Regions from separate parts of the Homo sapiens genome. Here region 1 is linked to region 2. The links come from fine-mapping of genetic effects on gene expression. A gene starts in region 2. The other region holds a variant in brackets. All regions are shown on one strand. Distances are between the middles of the regions.

Region 1 (2,500 bases), 53 kb after region 2:
AGCTCATTACATTTATTGTGCACTTTATTTCTATTCTTATTACAGTGTAATATATAATGAAATAATTATACAACTCACCATAATGTAGAGTTAGAGGGAGCCCTGAGCTTGTTTTCCTGCAACTAGATGGTCCCATCTGGGAGTGACGGGAGACAGTGACAGATCGTAAGGCATTCGATTCTTATAAGGAGCGGCAGCCTACATCCCTGGCATGCATGGTTCACCATAGGGTTTGCACTCCTATGAGAATCTAATGCTGCTGCTGATCTGACAGGAGGTGGAGTTCATGTGGTAATGCAAGCGATGAGGAGTGACTGTAAATACAGATGAAGCTTCTCTCAGTCACCTGCCACTCACCTTCTGCTGTGTGGCCTGGTTCCTAACAGGCCATGGACCAGTACTGGTCTGTGGCCCGGGGGGTTGGGAACCCCTGAATTAGAGGTCTTTTGGGCAATAAATTGTGTACATTGATTATCAATCTTAAGTAATATTTGCTTATCCACAAACTGGGAAAAAGAAGGCTCTTTAGAGATTTAAAAATACTTCCTGCTGACATTCTGAGGAGTGTGGAATGAAAGTGTAACAAAGGATCCCTTTGAAAGTGTAAAGTAAATCAAGGGTATTCTACAGTCACTTTTTGTTCTGTGGTACAGGAAGGAATAGCGTTTTTAGTACTCTTTCCCAGCTACATTTATTTGTAGGGGGCAATGCAAAAGAGTACTGTTTGTGCTGGAAGAATGGCTGCCATTAAATAAGGAATTGTTTAACTTGATTGGTTTTGCCTTGGAGCGTGTAAGGCAGTGTTGCCGAATGTTTATTTTCTTGTTATTAAGCAGTTGGAGTTCTTTGCATATTTTGAATATGAGCCCCTTATGATTTGCAAATATTTTCTCCCAATCTGTGGGTTGTCTCTTCACTCTGTTAATTTTTTCCTTTGTTGTACAGAAGCTTTTTAGTTTGTTACACT[C/T]GACATTCCAGGCCTGGACAGTTGCCTGTTGCTCATTGGTGAGCCACTGGTAAACCACTGCAGTAGGGGAAATACTTTTGGACCGTTAATATTTGCTATTTGTTAAAAATAGCCTGTTTGCATCTCTTGGTTAGGAGAAAGGCAGTGTTTTTAATTCCTGGCAAAGTGTGCTGTTTTGTTGGAAGAGTATGAAGGCCATGGAACAGAAATCCCCAAATAATGTCTTTCTAGCAGCACATTAGGGTAGATTTAAGACTTGCGTTTGAAAATTGTAGCACAGTTTGATTGTGGTTTGATGAAATAAGAAGTCAAACACTTGGGCATGTGTTTTATTTCTTTGCGGCGACTTTGAAATCTTGCAAGAGCTGTGGAAATTGAGCTTTTGCTGAATCTGAGCTATGTCAGTCTTGCTTGTTTATAGGAATCTGATCAAAATAGCTGTGCTCTACTGTCCCCTCATGCATAAAGGCCCACACAATACTTTAATTGTTGAGAGCACATTGCTGGATGTCATGAATGAAAATGCCACTTTATTTGCTGCTCTGGAGGGAGTGGATCAGTAGAAAAGTAAACTTTGTATATATTCCTTTTAAATGTGAAGGGTTTATTAAGGAACATCATGATACATATGTTTTGTAAGTTTTATTTTATTTTTAATTGACAAATAATGTATATGTTTATAGGGTACAATGTGATGTTTTGATACATATGTATATTGTGGAAGGATCAAATCAGGCTAATTAACATAACCTATCACCTCAAACAGTAACTTTGTACCCATTGATCAATGTCTCCCCTTTCTTCCTCTACTTCCTTCCACCCCCAGCCTCTGGTAAACACTGTTAAACTCTCTGCTTTTTCGACTTTTTTAGATTCCACATGCACTTAAGATCATACGGTATTTGTCTCTCTGTGCCTGGCTTATGTCATTTAACACAATGTCTTCTAGGTGTATCATGTTGTCGCAAATGACAGAACTTCCTGCTTTTTAAAGGCTGAGTAGTATTCCATTGTGCATCTATACTACATTTTAAAAATCCATTCATCCCTTGATGGCACTTAGGTTGCTTCCATATCTTGGCTATAGTTCTCATAGGGTGTACACTCCTATGAGAATCTAATGCTGCTGCTGATCTGACAGGAGATGGAGTTCAGACGGTAATGCAGGCGATGGGGAGTGGTATAAATACAGATGAAGCTTCTCTCGGTCACCTGCCACTCACCTTCTGCTGTGTGGCCTGGTTCCTAACAGGCCATGGACCAGTACTGGCCCATGGCCTGGGGGTTGGGGACCCCTGAATTAGAATTGCAGTGAGCATGGGAGTGCAGATGTTTCTTCAACATACTGATTTCAGTTTCCTCGGGCATATACCCAAAAGTGTGATTGCTGGATCATGTGGCAAATTCTAGTTGTAGTTTTTTGAGGAACTTCCATACCGTTTTCCATAATGGCTGTACTGATTTACATTTCTCCTGACAGTGTGCTGGCGTTCCCTTTTCTCCACAAGCTCTCCAAGCACTTGTTATCTTTCA
Region 2 (3,030 bases):
AGGCATAAGCCACCGCACCCGGCCATTTTTAAAAGAAAAATTTAGACTAGGTTATGAACTGTGTTTTGTTAGGGAGAAAAAAACCTGTGTAAGGCTAATACATGTATATATTTTACATATACATATATACATATGTATATATCAAACCTGTGTTATATATATATATAAAAACTGTGTAATATATGTATATATAAACCTGTGTAAGGCTAATATATGTACATATAAAACTTTACATATATAAATATATTTATATATGATTATATAAATTAATATATTTATAATAAATATATATACACACGCACACACACACACATATATATATATGGCCTATGTGAGGACTATTCTTTGAAGTCTAAAAGGCATAGCTTTGTGAAAATTATAAAGGGTCTGAGGCACTTGCTCCAGAAATACTTCCCAAACTGACCTACTTCTGTTTTCCAGCAACTCATATCTGAGTGTTGATTTTTTTTTCCTTTTAAACAAAGCTCCGTCTGCTCTCATATACCTCACTTCAGCTGTCATCTAGCTCCAGATAAGATGAATGTTGCTCCAATGCTGGTCATTTTCCAGGACTCTATGATATTAAATGAACCTATCTAGCCTAGTGATCCTCAAGTATATGCCTGTGTGCGTGTGTGCATGTGTCTGTCTGTCTGTAGTGTGGGTTTGCTTGTGAGTGGTAGAGATTATCATCTGGTGGTGACATCTCCATTCGGTTAGCTTGTGGGAGTGGTGGTACAGACTTTTTTTTTTCCTCCTCCACAGGGGACATAGGTTGAGAAACTCTGGCCTGGCAATTTAATGCTCAGTGCAGTTTGATGGTGATAAAACTCCTGAAGAAGGCAAGAGTGAGGCCTGAGTCTTGGAGAGTAAGTTGTTGCCAGTGCCTGACAGGCCTTCGGTTTAATTTGAAGCTGGAGGCCACATTGATAAAGTCGGCCCCGAAAGTCATTGCCTGTCTGATCGAATGCCGGTTTACCCAGCGGAGGCTGGGGGCCACGTGAGCTCACTTTCTTTGGTTTTCTACCCAGCAGCCCAGAATATTACCTTCCTGAAACCCTTTTTCATCAGCTAGCGATTCCTGAAAAGGATCTTCAAGATTTTTATGTTTCTCAGAACCTAGCAATAACTTGGAAAAGTTTTCCAAGTAACATTGATGTGTGGGTGTTCGGGGGCAGACAAGTTAAGGAGCAAGGCACCCTTTTTGAGGACCCGTGGCATGCAAATGACTTATCAGAATGCACATAGTATGACAGTAAACACCGTTTCTTACAGAGGTGAAATAACTCTCACTCCACAGAGACGGAAGTGACCCGAAGCTAGCAGTCCCCTGTATTTGCTTGTGTGACACCGAACATGTCAGATCAGGGTGTAGGAAACTATGCCTAGCGCAGAGGAGGGTAAAGGAAGTAGGGAGTCTGGTGGCTGCGGCGCTCCAGCTTCCAGCCACCGGCAGAGGAACCCTCTACGGCTTGAAAGGGAAACGCAGCCACTCAGCCGCTTCGACTGCGGCGGCGAAACCAAAACAGGGTGGGGCGGGGTGGGTGGTGCTCTCTAGTGGAAGGCGCCCGCTGGGTGAGGTCGTTTTGTCTGGCGGGGGGCTAGGACGGTCAGCCCGGGAGGAGGAAAGGCGCGTCCCGCCTCCAGCTGCAGGGCCAGGCGGCGGCGCCCGCTGGCGTCGCTTTCCCTCTCCCGGTCGGCCTCGGTGCAGGCCAGGCTGGGCGGGCCGGGCGGCGCTTGGGGGCCGGGCTCGGAGTCCCCACTTTTCCTCCCTCCTTCCCTCCTCTCGGGGCCGTCCCGAGCGGCCGGGCCAATGGGCGCGGAGAGGAAGGGAGCGGGAAGCGGGGCGCCTTGGGCCCGGCCCTCCTACGGCGCCCGTGGCTGCAGCGCCAGCGCCAAAGCCAAGTTTGCGCCTCGAGAGTTTGCGCCTCGAGAGTTTGCGCCGGTTCGCATTCCCCGGCCTCCCGTTCGCTCCCCCGCGAACCAGGCGGCCGTGCGCCTCTCGGGGCAACCACCCAAGAGCACCCGGGCGGGAGGACGCCGAGCAGGGGGTGTTGCGGGCTGGGACAGGGGCAGCCACCTCCCGAAGATGCAGGATGGCAGCAGAGCCGCAGCCGTCCAGCCTTTCCTACCGCACCACGGGCTCCACCTACCTGCACCCGCTCAGCGAGCTCCTGGGCATCCCGCTGGACCAGGTAACTGCAGGCCGGGAGCGCAGCGACCCCAGCTCCCCAGCGATCGCGTGCACGGGGCGGGCGAAAGTGTTAGCCACCGTCCCTCCGCCTCCATGGCGTATTTTACAGCCACACACTAGACAGTTGGTTTTTGTGTGTGTGTGTGTGTGTGTGTGTGTGTGTGTGTTTTCCCTTCTTGAGTTGGTGTTAGTGTTTTTCTCCTTGTAAGTGTGAAAAAATATTGGTACAGCCTGCGCGGCAAGTTCTACTGAACTTTTTTTTCTTTAAGTTTGGGATTGCCTCGTTTCCTGTAATCAAGTTCTGAAGTAGTCTGATACATGAAACCAGTGTTTCTTTCATCAGTGTCCTCAAGTCGTTATTGTTTTTAATTTAGATGACCCTACTTAAAAAACAAGCGCGATGAATCTGTAGACGGTAGTCTATAGATTTTGAATGCAGGACCTGGGTTTTAGACTTCTGAGGCGAGGCTTGTTCAGGGGTGACAGTTATTTTGTACCGTGTGTGATGCGGGACACACAAGGACACTTTGGTTTTCCCAGGGTTCGGTTGGCTCATATGCCTGGGGCTGGAGCTTCTGAGTAGGACAGGTTAGGGGGAGGAGAGGGGCCCCAGTGAAGTTATTTGAACTGTCCAGGAATTATCTACAACCATTAAAATTAAAAATGGCAACAACAGTGATTCCTGGCAAGAAACCTTCCTGAAGATGAAGCCCGTCTTACTCATTTCCTTGTCTCTTCAGGTGCTGCAGGCTAGATCTGCGGGATACTTAGTAGTGACCCAATCAGTAAATGTTGATTTAAATAGAATTGGGCAGGGCATGCTGGGGGAGGACCCA

What was found. PIP is the estimated chance that this variant, and not a neighbour inherited with it, causes the effect. A credible set is the group of variants that fine-mapping cannot tell apart.
Region 1: its variant is the best candidate, but not a certain one, in a credible set for the expression of MBOAT1 in liver (GTEx, PIP 0.56).

Annotation. Positions count from the first base shown.
Region 1 is chr6:20,158,908-20,161,407 of GRCh38, reverse strand. All of the region lies in intron 1 of MBOAT1 (membrane bound glycerophospholipid O-acyltransferase 1), which reads left to right. Among named protein-coding and RNA genes, the nearest start is that of MBOAT1, 52 kb to the left of the region's middle. The variant C/T (reference allele first, on the strand shown) is at 968.
Region 2 is chr6:20,211,301-20,214,330 of GRCh38, reverse strand. It overlaps MBOAT1 (membrane bound glycerophospholipid O-acyltransferase 1), which reads left to right and starts at 1,862. Exons shown (of 13, transcript NM_001080480.3): 1 at 1,862-2,195. The coding sequence starts at 2,097. RefSeq lists an enhancer at 834-1,334 and a silencer at 1,517-2,056.